3 linked regions of the Homo sapiens genome follow. The protein of the gene in region 1 interacts with the protein of each later gene in a biochemical or structural test. Each region holds a gene or a part of one and is shown on either strand. Other genes may lie near its edges.

The links. Proteins that work in one complex are often made in the same cells at the same time.
Region 2: the proteins of SNTA1 (region 1) and ATP2B2 interact in a test that uses a peptide from one of them, tested with the Homo sapiens proteins (one study listed by BioGRID).
Region 3: the proteins of SNTA1 (region 1) and WWTR1 interact in a test that uses a peptide from one of them, tested with the Homo sapiens proteins (2 studies listed by IntAct, with this or other methods).

What each region holds. Positions count from the first base shown.
Region 1 is NC_000020.11:33,412,704-33,419,798, reverse strand, and holds part of SNTA1 (alpha-1-syntrophin), read left to right. Parts: intron 1-1,875; coding exon 1,876-2,080; intron 2,081-5,164; exon of another isoform or gene 5,165-7,016; coding exon 7,017-7,095. UniProt on the Homo sapiens protein: Adapter protein that binds to and probably organizes the subcellular localization of a variety of membrane proteins. May link various receptors to the actin cytoskeleton and the extracellular matrix via the dystrophin glycoprotein complex.
Region 2 is NC_000003.12:10,495,587-10,502,586, reverse strand, and holds part of ATP2B2 (plasma membrane calcium-transporting ATPase 2), read left to right. Parts: intron 1-7,000. UniProt on the Homo sapiens protein: ATP-driven Ca(2+) ion pump involved in the maintenance of basal intracellular Ca(2+) levels in specialized cells of cerebellar circuit and vestibular and cochlear systems.
Region 3 is NC_000003.12:149,655,026-149,662,576, forward strand, and holds the start of WWTR1 (WW domain-containing transcription regulator protein 1), read right to left. Parts: upstream 3,001-7,551; 5' UTR 2,740-3,000; intron 2,285-2,739; 5' UTR 2,282-2,284; coding exon 1,851-2,281; intron 1-1,850. UniProt on the Homo sapiens protein: Transcriptional coactivator which acts as a downstream regulatory target in the Hippo signaling pathway that plays a pivotal role in organ size control and tumor suppression by restricting proliferation and promoting apoptosis.

The DNA.
Region 1 (7,095 bases):
CTTTCTAAACCAATCACAAGCAAAAAGGATGGAATGATCATGATTTGATTTGACCAATCAAGATTCTCCCTCTAAGCTGGGGAGAAGCTGAGCCTCTAGGGCTCAGGGTTCTCTTAGCAAAGGAAAAAGAGGGGAGATGGTTTTTGGCTGTCAAGTAGGCTGTGATATGTCCCACTTCTGCTGCCCTTTGAGACATAATCCAATAGTCAGTCCTGGGGTAAGTCGTTGCTACAGTGATGATAAGTCATTTGAGTCCTAGTCCCCAAAAGTCAGACCCAGGCTTGCTTCTCCCAAAAAAACCTGACCCTGGTTTCTTTCAACATTGCTTCTATCCCAACCCCAATAGGGTTTGTAACTCCCTCTTATTTGCCTCCATTTGCTTTGAATCCTATCTGAGCCTCAGAGGCATCTCCTGCGACAGAAATAGCTTCTTATCTGGTTCTTCCAGGGAGGTGGGCCAAGAATTACTTCCTAACTCCTTCCTGGGCTGTCCACTCACAGGGCACGTTGGCTGGGCTTTGACTGCAGACGTCAGATAGCTAGCAAGCCAGATGGCCCTGGGAGCAGGTGTGGTTGAGAGCAGAGGAAGAGAGGCTGCCCACGGGCTAGCAGGCATCAGGCACCCACAGAGGGTATATCCTTGTTGGGAGAAGAGAGACAAGGTCTTGGGAAAGTCATCATTTTTTTTTTTTTGAGGCAGTCGCACTTCATCGTCCAGGCTGGAGTGCGCAATCTTGGCTCATTGCAACCTTTGCTTCCCATGTTCAAGTGATTCTCATGCCTCAGCCTCTCGAGTAGCTGGGATTACAGGCATGCACCACCCTGCCCAGCTAACCTTTGTATTATTAGTAGAGACAGGGTTTCACCTTGTTGGCCAGGGTGGTCTTGAACTCCTGACATCAAGTGATCCACACTGCCTTGGCCTCCCAAAGTGCTGGAATTACAGGCATGAGCCACCATGCCCAGCCTGGGAGTCTTTTTTTTTTTTTTTTTTTTTTTTTTTTTTGAGACAGAGTCTTGTTATGTCACCCAGGCTGGAGTACAGTGGCACAATCTTGGCTCACTGCAACCTCCTCCTCCCGGGTTCAAGTGATTCTCCTGCCTCAGCCTCCCCAGTAGCTGGGATTACAGGTGCGAGCCACCACGCCCGGCTAGCTTTTGTATTTTCAGTAGAGACGGGGTTTCACCATGTTGGTCAGGCTGGTTTCAAACTTTTGACCTCAAATGATCTGCCCGCCTTGGCCTCCCAAAGTGCTAGGATTACAGGCATGAGCCAACATGCCCAGCCTGGGAAAGTCTTGTAACCACCTTCTTGTATACACTGTCTAGGAGTTCAAGACCAGCAACATGGCGTGACCCCATCTCTACAAAAAATTAATAGCTGGGTGTGGTAGTGCGTACCTGTAGACCCAGCTACTTGGGGAGCTGAGGTGGGAGGATTGATTGATCTGGGAGATTGAGGCTGTAGCGAGCTGTGATCACACCATGGCACTCTAGTCTGGGTGACAGAGAGAAACTGTCTCAAAAAAAAAAAAAAAAAAGTCACATGGCCACACCTCACTGCAAAGGAGGCTGGGAAATAGAGTCTTTCTTCCAGGTGGCTGTATGTCTATTAACCATGGGGAAAATGAGAGAAGGGATATAGGCGGGCCCTATCTCTATATAGGGATAGAGAGAAGGGATACAGTATTTTCTGCTCCACTGCCCTGTCAGAGACTTTAACTTAGAAGAATTTGTTAATATCACTACTGGACTCTTGCTTACTAAGGGTCTAATAGTGACACGTAAATTAAACTCTTAATAAATTAGTGACAATTGTGATATGTGCTGGGAGCCCATGTCACAGTGGTGACTGCTGATGTCTCTCCCAATCAGTCAAGTATATGAAGGACGTCTCACCGTATTTCAAGAACTCTACTGGTGGGACCTCGGTCGGCTGGGACTCACCTCCTGCCTCACCCCTTCAGCGGCAGCCTTCCTCCCCTGGCCCCACACCCCGGAACTTCAGCGAGGCCAAACACATGTCCTTGAAGATGGCATATGTCTCGAAGAGGTGCACCCCCAATGACCCGGAGCCCAGGTAAGGCTGGGGTTGGGAGCAACTCAGATGGACAGATGCCCTGGCGTCAGGTGGTGGGACCAATGGAAAGACACCTCTGTGTTGTACGAATGACCAGCACAATGCCAGGACATAGTAGGTGCTTAAAAAATAGATTGACTGGAAGCCTGAGTGAAGCCATGGAGATGATGGTGTGCTTTGCTTCTCACTTCTTCCTCTGGGCAGCTCACATCTGGGGATGAACTTGGTCTGAGGAAGAACCCTGCGTTCCAGTCCTGGTCCTCTTTGAACTAGGCCCTTTTCCTCACTGACCTTTAGATTCTCCATTGTGAGATGAGGTTGTTGGACTCACTGATCCTCTCGTCTCTTCCCACTCTGCTGGAGCTCTGAGATGTCTGGTAACCTTTTTATCAGGGCCATGGAAGGTTACATCCTTCACATCTGAGCAGCCTTTAACAGTTCATTGATAATACTGAAACCACCTAACATTTACTGAGTGTTTACTGTGTACCCAGCACTGTGTTGAGTGCTTTCCCTGTGCAATATTATTTAGCTCTCACAGAGGCCCAATGGGCAAAGTCCTATTATTTCACCTCCATTTTATTTTATTTTATTATTATTTTTGAGCCAGAGTTTTGCTCTGTCGCCCAGGCTGGAGTGCAGTGGTGCAAAGATCTTGGCTCACTGCAATTTCTGCCTCCTGGGTTCAAGTGATTCTCCTGCCTTAGCCTCCTAAGTAGCTGGGACTACAGGCGCCCACCACCACACCTGGCTAACTTTTTTTTTTTTTTTTTTTTTTTTGACAGAGTCTCACTCTGTTGCCCAGGTTGGAGTGCAATGGCATGATCTTGGCTCACTGAAACCTCTGCCTTCCAGGTTCAAGCAATTCTCCTCCCTCAGCCTCCCAAGTAGCTGGGATTACGGGCGCCTGCCACCATGCCTGGCTAATTATTTGTATTTTTAGTAGAGACGGGATTCTCCATGTTGGTCAGGCTGGTCACGAACTCCTGACCTCAGGTGATTCCCCCGCCTCAGCCTCCCAAAGTGCTGGGATTATAGGTGTAAGCAACTGTGCCCTGCCTAACTTTTGTATTTTTTGTAGAGATGGGGTTCCACCATGTTGGCCACGCTGGTTTCGCACTGCTGACCTCAGGTGATCTGCCTGCCTCGGCCTCCCAAAGTGCTGGGATTACAGGCATGAGCCATCGTTCCCGGCTCACCTCCATTTTATAGATGAGGACAGAGAGGGGAAGTAACCTACTTGAGATCACACAACCAGAAAGGGTGGCACTTGCCTCAATCCTGGTAGTCCTTTCTGCTTTGGAAGGTGCAAGATACCTGAGTGATGGTGGTGGCTAAATGGAGCATATTTGGTCAAGTGGGATATGCATTGTTGGAGGTGATGCTTAACTGCTATATGCATTACAAGCTTGGGCTGTGGGTCCTAGTGACAGCCTAGGTTCAATGCCAAGCAAATGCCCAACATTGGCTGGGAGGGCTGGTTAACGTCCAGCATCCAAATCTCTTGGTCTCACTCGATGCCACACCTCTTGCCTGCCCCCATGAGGCAAAAACTGGTGATTCACAGGTCACTTGCCGATGCTCTAAAAAAGAGCCTTTGTTTTTGTTTTTGAGACGGAGTATCGCTCTGTTGCCCAGGCTGGAGTGCAGTGGTGTAATCTTGGCTCACTGCGGTCCCCTTCTCCCGGGTTCAAGCGATTCTCCTGCCTCAGACTTCTGAGTAGCTGGGATTACAGGCACCTGCCAACATGCCCAGCTAATTTTGTATTTTTATTAGAGATGGGGTTTCACCATGTTGGTCAGGCTGGTTTGGAACTCCTGACCTCAGGTGATCCGCCCACCTTGGCCTCCTGAAGTGCTAGGATTACAGGCATGAGCCATCGCCTGTATTTTTAATAGACTAATTTTTGTATTTTTTTTTTTTTTGGGACAGAGTCTTCTCTGTTGCCAGGCTGGATGGAGTGCAGTGGTACAATCTCAGCTCACTGCAACCTCCGCCTCCTAGGTTCAGGCAATTCTCCTGCCTCAGCCTCCTGAGTAGCTGGGACTACAGGTGCACGCCGCCATGCCTGACTAATTTTTTTTTTTTTTGTATTTTAGCAGAGACGGGGGTTCACCATGTTGCCCAGGCTGGTCTTGAACTCTTGAGCTCAGGCATTCTGCCTGCCTCGGCCTCCCAAAGTGCTAGGATTACAGGCATGAGCCACCGCGCCCGGCTGTATTTTTACTAGAGACAGGGTTTCACCACATTGGCCAGGCTGATCTCAAACTCCTGACCTCAAGATCCACCCACCTTGGGCTCCCAAAGTGCTGGGATTACAGGGGTGAGCCACCATGCCCGGCCCGGAAGGGCCTTCTGTGAGTGTGAAGGTGAAGTAGTATTAGTCCTTCTAGAGACTCATAGAACCTTAGATTCCCAGCCTGATCCCAGACATTACCTGAAACGTGTGTATATGTTTCTAAGTGTGCGCACGTGTAGATGACATGTAAATGCAAGTGCTTGTATGTATATATGAGAGCATTTGCATGTATGAGTATAGATTTGTACATGTGTGTTTGTTTATATGTTATTTGTATGTGTATGCACATATGTGTGTGCATGTGTGTTTTAACATGTACATGCCTGAGTACCTACATAGGTAACCTCAATATAACTGGGGTTCCATATGGCCCACTGTCAGTGCAGTATCCCAGTCATAGGGATACAGCCTGGCAACCAAAATATAATGAAAACTGCTTCAAACTTTTACTCAGTGTTAGGATTGCACTGGGCTGCAAGTACAGAAACTCCAACAAGCAATGACTTAAATAAAAGGGGTTAATTTTCCCACATGTTTAAAAAGAAGTCCAGGGGTCAGCTATTCAGGCTGCTGTAGATGCTCAAGGATGCCATCAAGGAACTAGGCTTCTAGCTTCCTGCTCTACCATTTTAATTATGGGCGGTTTTCTTCTTCGTGGAGGCAGGATGGTGGCTGCATCCCAAGAATTGTGTTCATATTCCAGGCAGAAATAAGACAAAAGCCAAAGAGTCTTTTCTGCTAGTATTTTGGCTATCTGTTGCTGTATCACAAACCAACCCTAAAATTTAGTGGTTTAGAAAACAATAATTTATTATTTCTTTTTGAGATGGGGGATCTCGCTCTGTCACCCAGGCTGGAGTGCAGTGGTGTGATCTCAGCTCACTGCAACCTCTGCTTCCCAGGTTCAAGTGATTCTGGTGCCTCAGCCTCCCAAGTAGCTGGGACCACAGGTGCCCGCCATGACGTCTGGCTAATTTTTTGTGTTTTTAGAGGAGATGGGGTTTTGCCCTGTTGGCTAGGTTGGTTTTGAACTCCTGGCCTCAAGTGATCTGCCCGGCTCAGCTTCCCAAAGTGCTGGGATTACAGGTGTGAGCCACCATGCCTGGCCTCAAGCCTCTTTAGTTTTGTTGTTGTTTTGTTTTTCTGTTTTTTTTTTTTTTTTTTTTTTTTTTTGGTTTTTGAGACGGAGTTTCGCTTTTGTTGCCCAGGCTGGAGTGCAATGGCACGATCTCAGCTCACTACAACCTCCACTTTCTGGGTTCAAGCGATTCTCCTGCCTCAGCCTCCCTAGTAGCTGGGATTACAGGCATGTGCCACCACACCCAGCTAATTTTGTATTTTTAGTAGAGATGGGGTTTCTCCATGTTGATCAGGCTGGTCTTGAACTCCCTACCTCAGGTGATCCACCCGCTTTGGCTTCCCAAAGTGCTGGGATTACAGGCGTGAGCCATCACACCCTGTCTGTTTTTCTGTTTTTTTAAGATGAGGTCTTGTGCTGTCATCTAGGCTGGAGTGCACTGGCACCCTTATAGCTTACTGCAGCCTCAAACTCCTGGGCTCAAGTGGTTCTCCTGCCTCAGCCTCTAAGTAGCTGGGACTATAGGCACGTGTCACCATGCCTGGCTAATTAAAAAAAAAATTTTTTTTTCTTTTTTAGAGATGAGTGTCTCACTTTGTTGTCCAGGCTGGTCTCGAACTCCTGGGCTCAAGCCATCGTCCTGGCTCAGTCTCCCGAAGTTCTGGGATTACAGGCGTGAGCCACCATGTCCAGCTTAGTTTTTTTTTTTTTTTTCCCCTGCTCTTATTAGTGAATTAGTTTGGTTCTGTGCAACAAGGAGAACCTGGGAGCTGGCCCAGAAGAGGATGTTCCTTAGAAACCAGGAGAAAGGGGCAAGATTAGGAATAGCCACACAGCAATAATTTAGGCCCTATTACACCATCATGCATGTTTCAGTGTGTGTGTATATTTGTGTGTATCTGCATACGTGTAGGCTGGGCACGGTGGCTCATGCCTGTAATCCCAGCACTTTGGAGGGCGAAGGCGGGGTGATCATTTGAGGTCAGGAGTTCGAGACCAGCCTGGCCAACTTGGTGAAACCCCATCTCTACTAAAAATAAAAAAATAAGGCCAGGCATGGTGGCTCATGCCTGTAATCCCAGCACTTTGGGAGGCTGAGGCAGGCGGATCACGGGGTCAGGAGATCGAGACCATCCTGGCCAACATGGTGAAACCCCATCTCTATTAAAAATACAAAAATTATATGGGTGTGGTGGCGTGTGCCTGTAATCCCAGCTACTTGGGAGGCTGAGGCAGGAGAATCACTTGAACCTGGGAGGCAGAGGTTGGGCCATTGCAGTGCAGCCTGGGTGACAGAGCGAGGCTCTGTTTCAAAAACAACAACAAAAACCCCACAAAATATATGAACACGTGTGTATATGTCACACTCGCTTGTTCCTATGCCCCATGAAGCCCCAGCAACTGTGGCTGGAGCCCAGCAGTGAGGGTTGCTCCTGATTCTCTCACGGACATCCCCCTGGTTTCTCCTGGTTTGGTGGTGGGTGGGGTTTCTTGGGCCAGGGTTGGGCAGCTGCAGCCTAATGGTCAGGTCCTTGTCTCCACCCATTTGTGCCTGCAGGTATCTGGAGATCTGCTCGGCAGATGGTCAAGACACCCTCTTCCTGAGGGCCAAGGATGAGGCTAGTGCGAGGTCGTGG
Region 2 (7,000 bases), on another chromosome or scaffold:
AAAGGAAACTGTGGCCCAGCCAGGCACAGGGACTTGTCCAAGGTCACACCGTGTTCTGTAGAGACCTGGGCTTCTTGCAAGTGCTCTCAGGCCCCAGACAAGAAGCAGCAGAGGCCTGTGTTGGCCCCTGGTTTTCCCCAGGTGTTTGACTGTGGGTGGAAAGTATGAGAGCCCTGGGCCCAGCCCTGCTCCTGACCAGCTGTGTGATCTTGGCCAAGTCACTTCCTCTCTCTGCCCTCAATCTTCTCATCTGTGGCCAGGCAGGCCTATCTCTGCCCTGTTTTATGCCACAGCTGCCAGAGAGCCCTGGACACTGTAGAGGGCTGTGCACGAAGGTGTGATTGGCATCAGGATCAGGAGCCGGAGCAGGTGAGCACCTTGCTGCTGCAACTGGCCAACTCTGAGATCAGAAAGGGAAAAAAGGAAAGAAATCTCTAGTTTGCAGATCGGAGGTCAGAAAAGCTGCCTGTGGCTTATGCTATGTGCAGAGCCTGAAACACTGGCCCATCCGCCTGCTGTCCCACTGCCCTCCTCTGCCTTCCCCCTGCCCAGCCACAGGTATGGGTCAGGAAACCCATTAATGCATTAATTAACCTAAAGATCACCTGATGGGGGCAGATTTCTGGGCCCTACCTTGATGAATCAGGAGGTCCCAGGGGCTACATTTCCACAGGTACCCCTGGGTTTTCACCCATTTCACTCCGCACCCTGGGGAGCTGAGGTGCTTAAGAGTGGGCTTGGTGGAGCACATAGGCGCTCAGAGCTGGGGGTGGCCTAGACACCATGCTGTTCTGCCTGTACCTGTCACACGTGGGGAAACTGAGGTCTCCAGCCTAGTGGGTGACTGAATGAGACTGAAACTCATTTCCTCTCCCCACCAGTCCCCTACCAACCCCTAGCCCCTGGCTTCACCCTGCACAGCTAAATCAGGCCCTCCTGAGGACCGATGAACCCTCAAATCCAAAACAAGGCCATCTTCTCAGCAGACAGCTGGGAGCCATGCTCCAAGGGCACTCTCCAAGACCCCATCTCTACAAAAAATTTAAAAATTAGCAGGGTGTGGTGGCATACTCCTGTCGTCCCAGCTATGCAGGAGGCTGAGGTGGGAGGATCGCTTGAGTCCGGGAGGTCAAGGCTGCAGTGAGCCGTGATTGTGCCACTGCACTCCAGCCTGGATGACAGAGCGAGACCCTGTCTCAAAAAAAAAAAAAAACCGTTTAAAAAATGGGTTATGCTATGGAAAACTCCTGGGACCTCCTGCTGGGCAGTGTGGCTTCGGCTTCACCCCGGTCTTCACTTGACAGTCTGGATGGAGGCGGCGGGAGGCAGGGGGAAGCGGGAGTGACGGTAAAAGCCTTAGAAGTGTCATTCACAGTCTAGGAAATCTCTGCAGGGTCAGAGAGTTCCAGATATGTGGCCAGAGACCACGGCTGGCAGGACCAGGAGGGCAAGTGACCAGGCCCGAGCAGGGGCCACAGCTCAGGTTCCTAAAGAAACAGAGGTCCCTGGGTATGGGGGAGAGTGTGTTGGTCTGAGGGTCAGGAGAGCTGGGTCCCAGGCCGGCTCATCACTGGCGAGTGACCTTGGAAAAGCTGTGTAAGCCCTCTGGTCCCAAGCTCTCCCCTTGTGAGAGGGGTCAGTGATCCTGCCCCCCAGTGTCCTTGGTGAGGGCAGCTTCTCCTGCCCACTGCCCCTTGGGGTGAAGGGTCAGAAACACTGCAAGTCTCAGGAAGTAGCAAGGAGAGCAACTGCAGGGACAGCCCGTTGTGTTTGTTTTCTGTGGCTGCCATAACAAATGACCACAGGCTAGGTGGCTTCAAACAACAGACGTGTATTGTCTCCCACTTCTGGAAGCCAGAAGTCTAGAGTCAGGAGCCAGCAGGGTTGGCTTTTCCTGGAGAGGCTGAGGAAGAGCCTGTCCCTTGTCTCCCTAGCTACGGGCAGTGGCCAGCAACCCTTGCTCTTCCTCACCTTGTGGCTGCGTCACACCCATCTCTGCTTTCATCTTCACCTCACTCCTTCCTGTGTGTCTCTCGGTGTCCTCTCCTCTGCTTCTAAAGACATTGGTCATTGGATTTAGGGCCCAACCTAGACCCAAGATGATTTCATCTCAAAATCCTTAGCTAATTCCATCTGCAAAGATCCTATTTCCAAACAAGGTCACATTCTGAGGTTCCAGGTGGGCATGAACTTTGGATAGGACACCGTTCAACCCACTGCAGTCACTAAGATTTATGAGGTGTTTATTGCTCATAAGACCTGCACACAGTCTTATCTCTTCTTCACCATCACCCATTTTCCGGATTACAGAAACCAGGGCCCAGAGACATTAAGAATGTGCCCAAGTCAGGCCAGGCGCAGTGGCTCATACCTGTAATCCAAGCACTTTGGGACGCCAAGACAGGTGGATCACCTGAGGTCAGGAGTTCGAGACCAGCCTGGCCAACATGGCAAAACCCCGTTTCTACTAAAAATACAAAAAAAGTTAGCCGGGCCTGGTGGTGCATGCCTGTAATCCAGCTACTCAGGAGGCTGAGACAGGAGAATCATTTGATCCTGGGAGGTGGAGGTTGCAGTGAGCCAAGATGGAACCATTGCACTCTAGCCTGGGTGACAGAGTGAGACTCTATCTCAAAAAAAAAAAAAAAAAAAAAAGAATGTGCCCAAGTCACACAGCAAGTGAGGGGCAGAGCTGGGATTTGAACCCAGGTCCCTGGTGCTCCTTCACCTTTCCACCTTTTTGTAGCTGGCTGGGGGATGCCCAGAGACCCCTTAGGGCCCACAGCTAGGAATCCATGGGGCAGGAATTCCAGCCAGCCCTATGAAGACCCCAGGTCTGCAGGGGCTCCTGGGCACCAGAGAGAGGCTGGAGACAGGCAGGGGAGCTTCAAGGTGTGAAGGGGCCCAGCCGTGGTCCCAGGAGACCAACATGTGGCAGAGGATTGAGAGCCACAGTTCCTTGTCTCTGCCACTGACTCTGTGAACGTCATTGTGCTCTTCCGGAGAATAGGGGCAGCAGCACTGACTTTATGGGGTAATTGCCAAGTACCGAAATGTTCATCATAATAGTACTAATCGCTAAAATGTGTCCGCAAGCACTTTACAAATGCTTTTTGTTTTCCCATGTAATGCGTGGGAGGGGAATTGCTTATTCAGTCATGTGCGTTCGGTTGTGTGTGGTTGAACCAGTGACTTCGCCTCAGTTTGCTCCTCCGTAAACCAAGGGTTAGCTGAGCACCCATCTTCCCGGTTGTCACGTGAGGCAAACAGGATCCAAGTACAGGGCTTGGCCCGGGTGTGGTCCAGGTAGAGGCTCAGCGGATGTTTTCTTGCCTGTAAGATGGGATAGTGGTAGTATTATGATGATGCTATTATTTGTTGTATGAGGATTTGGTGAAGTAATGCAAAGGAAGCACTTGGCTCAGGGCCTCGCCAGAAATTGATGGAAAGTGGCCTCCTTTGTGGCATCAGAAAGATTTGAGTATAAATCCTAATGCCAGTGTTTACTACTGTGTGACCTTGGGCAGGTAGCTTTGCTTCTCTGAGCTTGACATCCTGATATGCAAAGTGGAGTGGGAAAAACCTGCCTCACAAGATTGTGCCACGAGATGATGGGTAGGTAATGTCTCAAATGGAACCCTCATCATGCCAGGCATTCGAAATATGTTGAGCTTCTGCCCTGCTTGTGGGCATCTTAAAGATGTCCCCAGAAGGGGCACATCCTAGTCCAAGGAGGGTGGATTTGATTTGGGAAAATTGGGAGCAGTCGTGCCATAGTGGAGCATATGGGATTGGTGGAGCCTATGGGAGAAGCAGTGAATGGATGACACCGTTTGGGGTCCAAGCACCATGTAGCTTTGAAGGAAGAAAGCAGGTCTCTGCAAGCTTCTGTGCTGCCTCTGAAGGCAGTTTCCTATAAAGTGGTGCCTTTCCTGTGCCGGCTGGGCTACTCTACCGGGCCATGTCTGGCTGCCCCGGGACCATTTTGTGGGAGCCATGGGGGCGTCATCTGGATGAACTCATTCTAGCCCAGCTCTGTCAAACACCTGCCTTGCAGGCCCAAGGGAGCTGTGGAGGCAGTGGGCGGGGAATGCTGTGGCAGCCATTTGGGGTGCCTCCTGCATGCCTGAGGCATCCACGCTGAGTGAGGCCCCCAGGCTCATCCGGAGCAGAGGGTGCTGGCCTCCAGCTCACTGATCCTTCTGAAGTTTTTTGATCTGTGCCCATGGGCAGGGCACGCCATCCTACGTGGGCCTGACTTAGCGTTGATGTAGCGCAGTAGTTGAGGACAACATCTGGGCCCAGGCTGCTTGGGGTCACATCCAATGCCTGGCCGCTGACCAGCTGCATGTCCTTAATCTCCAAGCCTCCGTTCCCTCCACTGTCAAATGGAGATGACAACACTGCCTGCCTCATCAGGCCGTTGTGTCGGAGACTGAACTGTGCGGATTCCAAGATATACATTTTGACATTTCTGAAGCCAGGTTGTGCCTGACAACTGGTGTTACACCACAGTGGAACCAGCCATGCCTTTTATTTCTTAAATATACGTAAAGTAGTGATACAGGTTAGAGTCAAGAAAATATGATAAATAAGATCAGTTTTATAAGGGGCTCAGAACAGAGCCACCAGGCTGGTGGGAAGAAGCCAGGATTGCCACCTGCCTCCCCAGCTCAGTTGCGGTGAGTCCCTCACTGGGTCCTTTGTGTCCACTCTGAAACAATCAGCAAAAGAACACCTGCTTGCCGGAGCAGCTGTGAGAAGTCGGCAAACTTTTGTGTGTATTACGTGACCAGCAGAGTCCCCATATGCAGTAGGTGCTTAATAAATGGCCGTGCAAAACAAACAGCAAAGACCGTAGTACAAGGAGGAATTTAAAGCATAGACTCTGGGATTCTAATTCCTGCTCCACCATTTCCATGCTGTGTGACCCAGCACAAGTTTCTTAATTTCTCTGTGCCTTAGTCCCACCATCTGTAAAATGGGGATAACAAAAGTGTCCAATTCATAGGATTGTTGTGAGGATTAAGTAAAATTAAAGTGCTTAGGACAGCCCTTGGCAGAAGTGTAAGCAATTATTATTTGATGAACTTTAATGAGTCTCTTCTAGTTCAATAAATGATACTAAAATAAACACTAGGCTCAATAAAATAATAGCAGTTGAGGCTGCACTTGCTTTATAGCTGAGAAAACCAAGGGCCAAGAGGCATGCTGGTTTGCCCAGGATCACACAGCCAGCTCCCAGCAGACTGGAACCACAGCCCAATGTCCAGGCACCAGCCCAATGCTGCCTCTTTGCCCATGTTGGTTCAGGACTCTTTCTCTTATGGAGAAAGCAGTTCTTGCCATGGAGAGGAGGGTTTCTAGAAGAAGCCACCAGCAGATACATCACCAGTGCTTCAGGGATCCACAGGGTAATTAGGGCCCTCATTAGAAGTCGTTTCTGTCTTCCCTCAATTTTCTGCCTGACCACCACAAACAGTGGAAGGGGCCTAACTGGGATGCCCACCCTGCCCACAGCTGCCCAAGGTCAGCAGAGCCTGCCAACCATCCTGCAAGCCCACCAGCCAGCACTCTCCTGGCCTCCAAGTGGCTTCTGCAGAGTTGACACAGCAAAATTCCCTCCTGGAGACAGCAAAAGCCGTGGCTGGCCCGTTGGTCCAGCCACCAGACAGGCTAGGGCCACAAAGTGGATTGGAGTTGGGGGGAGGACAAAGACCTGGGTGCAGCCAGCCATGACAAGCACTTCAAGTGACCTTGGACAAGTCACAGTCTCTTTCTGAGCATCAGTTTCCCATCTTTGAAACAAGCCTTTTGGAGCCAGATGGGCCCCCTGAGACTTTAAATGTCTAAAATTCGAAGCTGCCTGGACATTGCTGATGTCCAGGTCACGGGGGAAGGGGCGGGGTTGGAGGGGTGGAGCTAGTGTCTGCGTGTGGAGTGCAATGTGTGTGGATCTTGGGTTGGACTCACTAGGAGCAAGCATGAGACAGCGCTCAGGAGAAAGGGGCTGAAAGGAAACAAGGTAGGGAGAGAAAGAGATAAACAAGCGTGTGGCCTCAGCTGATCCCTTGGGGGATGTGGGGCATGAACTGCGCCCCAGGTTTGGCTCTGCCTTGAAGCAAAAAAGCTGGCCTTTCATACCCCATATCAGATAGTTATTGGCCACGGCTGCCTTCTGAGTGGGATGCTGTGTGCAATTGCCCGGGCAGGAGCTCCTGTTCTTCCCAGGGCAAGCCTGCAAAGAAGGGGCAGCCGGGAGCTCTAGCTCCCAGCAGCTGGGGTGTGGAAGCTGCAGACCGGTAAGGAGGACTAGGGTGGGCACCAACAGTGTCCACTCTGTTATGTGGATTTGGGATGCAAAGGTTGCTGGGTGCCAGTCTCTTCCTAGCAACTATCTGAAGGCAGCAGATTAAGAGCTCTTTAGGCCACTTCTAAATTTATCAACTTACATGACTCACTTCAGATTAAAATGAAGCCCTTCTCCCCATCCCACCCCCAGCCAATTTCAGATTTCTGAGCTCAGAGCATCCTGAAGAGGGCATAGAATGCAAATCAATAAAACCAGTATTAGCTAAGTATTTGGTGTGGACCAGGCTGTTTGTCGGGCTCCTTGCTGAGCTCAGAGATGAATCAGCTCCAGAAACAACTCCTGCTGGGAGGCGGAGGCAGCCCCAGGTAGAAGGTGGTATACGACTGCGGGTGCCCTGCCTGGGGGCTAGGCCATGAATAACTTCCAGGACCAAGACTCAGCCTCACCACCACAGTATTTAGAGCTTCCAGAGCCTCAGTTTCCTTATCTACAAAATGGGGTCAGTGTGGTGAAGAGTATGTGGCCTGGGCCACTCCTGCACTCAGGGAGTAGCAATAAAATTAAGCGAGACCTGGCACTGGGACCCAGGGCTGTTTCTAGGCACTTCTCTGCCCTCTCAGAGGCCTGAGTCTGCCCCATGACCTCAGGGGAAGGAAATTCTGAGCTGAGTGGAGACATCAGCTTCCC
Region 3 (7,551 bases), on another chromosome or scaffold:
TGAGGCAGGAGAATGGCGTGAACCCGGTAGGCGGAGCTTGCAGTGAGCCTAGATCGCGCCACTGCACTCCAGCCTGGGCGACAGAGCGAGACTCCATCTAAAAAAGAAAGAAAGAAAGAAAGAAAGAAATCATGTAGGGCTGGGCATGGTGGCTCAAGCCTGTAATCCCAGCACTTTAGGAGGCCGAGGCAGGCAGATCACTTGAGGTCAGGAGTTCAAGACCAGCCTGGCCAACATGGTGAAACCTCGTCTCTACTAAAAATACAAAAATTAGCCAGGCGTGGTGGTGGGTGCCTGTAATCCCAGCTACTCAGGAGGCTGAGGCAGAAGAATTGCTTGAACCCAGGGGGCGGAGGTTGCAGTGAGCCGAGATTGTGCCACTGCACTCCAGCGTGGGCGACAGAGTGAGACTTTGTCTCAAAAACAAAAACAAACAACAAACAACAACAACAAAAGTCATGTTATTACATCATATTCTTGACTCCACCAGCTACTTAGAAGTCAAAGGACTGAGCACATGTCCAAACTATCACTCAATAACCCAGAGAAGACCAGCTGTGGCATAAATGACCATCAAGTCTGTTTCAGAATCTCAGCATTACACCAATCTCAGAAACAACAAAAGAACTCCTTGGACAAGATATCAACAGCCTTGAGATGGGGAAGTAATAAGAATTGGTCACTGGTATGAATCAATGGGCTCACTATAGTAAACTTCATCCATCACTGTGTATTCATTCTTAGGGCTCTCTCATAGCAATCAGAGCATCAAATATTAGTGCCAAAGAAAGGCTTGATTAAACTTTTAAAATTGTACATAGTGTCTTCACTTTTGCACTAAGGCTACTCTACTAAAGAAATATGGGCTTTAAAATGAAGTCTAAGTCAAGTTCTTAGGAGAGGAGTTTCCCTCACTGGCAGTGCAGGCAATCCTGAAACAAGTGGTTAGGCTGGCACAACCTCCATCTTTGATAGCCTGACCCTATGACCTCAATGGAACATTTCAAGTTCCAGCCTGGTTTCTCCTGAGGAATGTAGTTATCTTAGGGTACCACAATTGAAACAACCTCCTCTAGTGTTTGAGAATATATTTTCCTGTGGGGTGTAATTTGAAAATTTCAACTAATGTAAAATTCATGACATCAAAAAGCTGGAACAATGTGAAAGGAAGAAGAGTGACAAAGCAGGCTTGTGATTTGATGGTATTTTAGGTTAACAAGTTTAATGTAATAAAACTCCTAACAATTTCCACACGATTGATTTGTCCAGCCCACAACTACTCCACCACACAGTTGCTAATAACATCACTGTGCTGTGTGGTCATTATGTCACCCAGCTGGGAGCACTATGGCCTACCAACCACTGTTCACTTTTCCAGCTTGCTTTTCCCAAGAAGATAGAAACTGCAGACCACCTACTTCACCAAAAGTCCCTCTGTTCCCCAAGCTTCACAGCTTTTCTCTGATTTATCTCGGTGTCACATCCCAAAGGGCCTGGCTCTGGACTATCTGACTTAGAGTGGCCAAGGAAGGGACTAAGGGTCTGTGCCCAAGAGTTGGCTTCAGTCCTGCAGATTCAAGGCAAAGTCACCTGTGTGTTTTATGGTGGATGAACTTCACCACTGCTTCTGATCCCTGCTTCTGATCCCTTACAATTCCAACACTCAGAGACTCACTCCCTGCTTCCAGCTCTCCATATCTGTGAAATAACCGTGGAAGGACACGCACCATCTCTCTCTTTCTCTCTCTCTCTCTCTCTCTCTCTCTCACACACACACACACACACACACGAACACACGCGCGCGTTGGGCACTGTGACTTGGTGCCTTCTTCGGCTCCAGGCTGACTTACTTGAGGAAGTACCTCTGGCCAGTGGCCGTGAAGGTCATCTCCCAGCCCGGGGGCAGTGGCAGCTCGTCGGTCACGTCGTAGGACTGCTGGCGGAGGTGCGCGTGCTGCTGCGCGGGGCTACCCGCAGCACCCGCGCCGGTGCCCAGCTGCAGGGACGCGGGCGACGAGTGCGAGCGGACATGCTGGGCACCCCCAGCCAGTCGAGGCCCCGGGTGGCCGCCCGACGAGTCGGTGCTGGACTGGCGCGAGTGCGAGCCCGAATCAGGCTCCTTAAAGAAAGACTCCGGCAGGATCTTCTTCCGCCACGAGCTAGGCTTCGGATTCATGACAGAGTTGAAGAGGGCTTCGAGGTCTGTGTCTAGGTCCTGCGTGACGTGGATCACTTGCTGCCCAGGCGGCGGGAGCGGAGGGGGCGCCGAGGCCGGATTCATCTTCTGCAAAAAGAAGGTCAGATCAGCCTTTTATTTAAAGTCGGAGGAAGTGGGTAAGAGGGTTACAGGGTGAGAGGGCGAGATGGTGGGAGAAAGAATAGAGGGAAAAGGAAACGAGGAGACAGATAATTGCCCGCCTGGAGATCCCAGACACTCAGCGGTAAGACCAGCAGGATGGGGGAGGGGTCCCTCCTGGCCTCGAGAATTATGCAACTTTCTTGAAGCAAAGAAGTTGCCTGGAGGAGGAGAAGATAGGGCGAGGGGTGGAGGGAATAACTGCACTCGGGGCTTGCTGAACCGCAGGATGGCAAAGGAAAGGTCGCACGATTCCAGGACAGGCAGCCCCCCGAAAGAAGTTCAGCCCGAGCCAACTCCACCACGTCTCGACTCCGGAAGCCCGAGGAGCCTGGAGCCCTGGAGTGGTGCCGGATGAGCGCGCGAGCTCCAGCGGGCACTACCTGGGCGGGCAGCGAAGCTGAGCCTGAGCGCGCGGCGGCCGCCGTCCCGCCCGAACTTGCCGTCGGGCCTGGGTCGCTCGGGTGAGTCCCGAGATTGCGGAGCTGGAGCCGAGGCTTGGCTGACAAATCCCGACCCGACTCTGTGCCTGGCAGTCTAAGGGCTTCGGCTCTCACATCCCCCGAGCTGGCCTAAGGCGCTAGTGCTGGGCGAAAAGGAGGCGCAGGAGAAGCAGACAGCGCGGCCGCAGCAGCTCCCGGACTGTCCCATAAACAAAGTTTGGAGCAAACTCCCACCCCCAGGAAAGAGGCGGGCCCGAAAGTTGAGCTGTTGAATTATGTATGACCTCCTAGTCCCTAGCCGGCCAGCCCCCGCTCGCCCCTCCTCTTCCTCCTCCTCCTCCTCCCACCTCGGCTCCAGAAAACCCTGGGCGTGATGGGTACTTTACTGGGTAAGAGGAGACGGGTGCCCCCCACCCACTCCTCCCGGCCGCGCGGACCTCTCCCGCTCAGACCTGCATCTGCATTCCTTTGAGTTTACCACGGACTTGGGGCGGGATCAAAGGGAAAGTGGCCTGAGCCTGTTTCATCAAGGGGTTGTGGACCGAAACCAAGGCCGGGGGTGGCGGAGGGCACGCGGATGAGGGGCTCAGGCCTAGGAAGGGCCGGTCCTGGACACCGCGCCCTCCCCTGCAGCCAGGCGCCGAGGCCTGCAGCACCCGGAGCGCCGCACTGACCCGCGATTCTGCCCGAAGGCCGGCCCGGGTGCGCCCCGGCGCGGGGAGACACCAACAAGGCCAGCTTTTCCACGAGAGGCTGCTTAGCTCTTGTGACCATATTTGGTCTGGCGAGGAGGCATCTTGGCTGCCTGGCTCTCAATTGTCTGCTAGAGCACAGACGGTGCCCAGAAAGTGCCTCTGTCACTGGAGATGCGGCTTCGCCAACGGGTGGGTTGTAAACAAACAACTTTCAAACCATTCATCAATCCTTAATTTCCTCTACGGGGGTGACTCAGGCCACTAGAGATTGAGAAGAAAAAGCTGGGTGTTGGAAGAGAAGAGCAATTGCACCCCCCTCCCCCGCAACATCCGTGAGGGTTGTGGGAGGATTGGAATGTCCCTGCCGCCCTCCGGGGAGCCTGGAGCCGGGATGGAACCCGAGCAGGTGGCTGGAAGTAGAGAGGGTGCGCCAGTGACCCGAAAAAAGCCACCCACCTTCCCACCAACTAGATCTGGGCGAGGGATGGAGACCCCCTGCCTCTAGCTAAGGGAAGAAGGTCAAGTCTGGCGAAACAGCTGCGGGAAGTAGGAGGAGGCCTTGCCCTTCAGAGCAGCTCAATTTCTTTTCTCTCTGGTTGCCTCTCCACTGAGGGGAAAGGGTGGGGGGAGATGGCGAGGTAAGCCAAATTCCAGGAAGCCCCTACTCCACCCCATTTGATTCAAATAGGAGTTTATTAAGTAAATCAAACGAGACAATGTAAAGCACTTCGCACAGCACCGGGCTGGTTACGTAAGTGTTTGTTAAATAAAAGAGAACTGTATGTTCTTCAAGTTCACGTATTGTGCCTTAATTTTTTTTTTTTTTTTTTTGAGTGACGTCTCCCTCTTGTCCCCCAGGCTTGAGTGCAATAGCTCCATCTCAGCTCACTGCAACCTCCGCCTCCCGGGTTCAAACGATTCTCCTGCCTCTGCCTCCCAAGTAGCTAGGATTAAGACGCCTGCCACCACGCCCAGCTAATTTTTGTATTTTTTAAAAGCAAAAATGGGGTTTCACCATGTTGGCCAGGCTGGTCTCAAATCCTGACTTCAGGTGATCCGCCCGCCTCAGGCTCCCAAAGTGCTGGGATTACAGGCATGAGCCACCGCGCCCAGCCTGCCTTAATATTTTTACAGGGTAAAATAAAGTCGAAGTTAAAATCTGGAGCTGCCTTGGAGGAGAAAAGTTTAAGGAAAAGACAAGGCCACTCATAGTTTTGCCTCGGAAAAGGTAGAATTTTGGGGCCACTCCCTGAATGGCTGCATCCATATCCAAAACAGAACCACCAAAGTGAGCCACTTCCCCTGTTATCTGTACTTGGAGGTGGCTCCAATTCCAGACTCCTCATAGACTGGAAGAAATTAGGGCCATCTTAGACTAAGGCAGGCATACACGTATCATCCTTTTTTTTTTTTTTTTGAGATGGAGTCTCACTCTATTGCCCAGGATGGAGTGCAGTGGCATGATCGCGGCTCACTGCAACCTCTGCCTCCCTGGTTCAAGCAATTATCCTGCCTCAGCCTCCCGAGTAGCTGGGATTCTGTGCAGCAAGTCCTCTGCCCATAGGACTGGCAAAAGGAAAGGGGAAACTAGCACAGGTCACTCCTTGGAAAGTAGAATCTTTGCAAGCTACTCTCAGAAGCCATCACAGTTGCAACAACAGGGGAAATAAGCTATCGAACAAGAGGAAGTGACTGGAACCTAATGATACTAATTCAGAAGTCACAAGGCTGACTTGATGATTAAAAGATGAAAACTTGAGGCCAGCCCTACTCTAGGAAAGTCCTCACTCCCGAAGAAAGGTGAGAATCAGGGTTGGAATTAGATGGGCAGTGAGAATCTGGGTTGGAACTGGATGGGCAAGGATGCAGTCTTCGTTTCTTTCCAAGCTTCAAGAAATAGATAGTGCAACAGATAAAGTAGATGTATGAAACGGAAATTGCCCTTAACACAGGATAACTGAAAAACTCCCAGTTCCCAAATAGCATATAAGATGTAATAGTGAATAATTCAAAAGATTTGCTGTTGTCCCAGCCATTCCAACAACAGCTTCAGATTAAATAACATTTACAGATGTCTTGTATGTATCAGGTACTGCCCGTAAGAGGCAGCACAGTGGATAAGTGTATAATTTCTGGAACAAAACAGCTGAGTCACTTCAGACAAGACATTTAAGCTCTCTATTCTTGGGTTTCCTCCTTTGTAAATTAGGGACAATAACAGTACCCACCCCACAGGATTCTAGGTGAAAACACATACACATTTTATTTGTTGATATTTGATTTAGAACACAATATTTGAAGCTGGCTCTATCTGCTACATTATGCAAGTAGCTTAGCATTCCTAAGTCACAGTTTACTCATTTACAAATTGGAAATAATATTGTGGTAGTCTCTCTGCTGCGTTGCTGCCTTTCAATGGCCCAGCCTCATGTTATTTATACCTTTACGTAGCCCCTTCCACTTAATCTGGACTGGGCCAGTGATTTGCCTTAACCAGGAAAATGTGGCAGTGAAGTTGTGCCACTTCCCTGCCTTTCCCATCCCATCCCCTAGGAAGGTATGGAAGCTTCCACTTTGTACTTTTAGGAGACCTGAGCCACTAAGTAAGAAGTCCAGTTACCCTGTTGGATAAACCACATGGAGAAGGAAAGGCCCTGAGATACTTGGAGAGAGGGAAAAGTCCAGCTGCCCAGCACCTGAGCTGAGCCCAGCCTCAGCCAACCCCACCGGCTGACTGCAAACACATCAGTGACCACCAGTAAGACCAGCAGAGCTGCACAGCCAAGCCCAGCCCAGATTGCAGAATTGTGAGCAAATAAAATGGATATTGCTTTAAGCCACAAAATATTGAAATGTTTTTTAAATGTAGAATGTGCATTCTAAGAATAAAAAGTTGCAAATAAAGTCTTTTTTTTTTTCTCAGACAGGGTTTCACTTTGTTGCCCAGGCTAGAGTGCAATGGCTTGATCTCAGCTCACTGCACCCTTCACCTCCCAGGTTCAAGTGATTCTTGTGCCTCAGCCTCCCGAGTAGTTGGGACTACAGACGTGCACCACCACGCCTGGCTAATTTTTGTATTTTTTTAGTAGAGGCAGGATTTCATCATGTTGGCCAGGCTGATCTTGAACTCCTGGTCTCAAGTGATCCGCCCACCTTGGCCTCCCAAAGTGCTAGGATTATAGGCTTGAGCCACCATGCCCGGCCACAAATAAAGTTTTTTTTTTTTTTTTTGAGACGGAGTCTTACTCTGTCACCTAGGCTGGAGTGCAGTGGCACAATATCAGCTCACCACAACCTCCACCTCCCGGGTTCAAGCGATTCTCCTGCCTCAGCCTCCTGAGTAGCTGGGATTACAGGCACCCACCACCACACCTGGCTAATTTTTGTATATTTAGTAGAGACGGGGTTTCACCATTTGGGCCAGGCTGGTCTTGAACTCCTGACCTTGTGATCCACCCGCCTCCACCTCCCAAAGTGCTGGGATTACAGGCGTGAGCCACCTCGCCCGGCCAAATAAAGCTCTTAACACAAAGCCTGCTTAACATAATAAAGCACTCAACAAATATGGCTGTTTTGTTTCATGGAGACCTAAAGATAAGGAAACTGGATCGATGAGTTAGAAAGTATTTTGTCCAAATATATACAATGAAACCATGTTAAAAAAAAACAAAAAACCCTGAGATTCAGCCCAGGGTTGTAACTCTAGAGCAGAGTGCATTCTCCAGACTGCATCCTGTGTGAGCCAGGAGTTGCTCCCTGGTATTGCCATTTTAAATCGTGTGATACTTTTTGTCTGACTATCTCATAAAGAAACTCCACAGCTTTTATAAGATAATCAGTTGAGAGCACACTCCTGCTGATAGATATGTAAATCTTTCCATTTGCAAACACTTTCCAACAAAGTCCATGCCTGCTTCTAAATCCTCCCCACAACACACTTCCTACTGAAGCTTCTCCTGAGTCATCCCTTTCTCTTCCCTCTGTTCACATCCAATCAGCGGCAAATGCTATTGATTCTTTCTTCTAGTGTCCCCCAAAATCCATGCTTCCCTTCCCA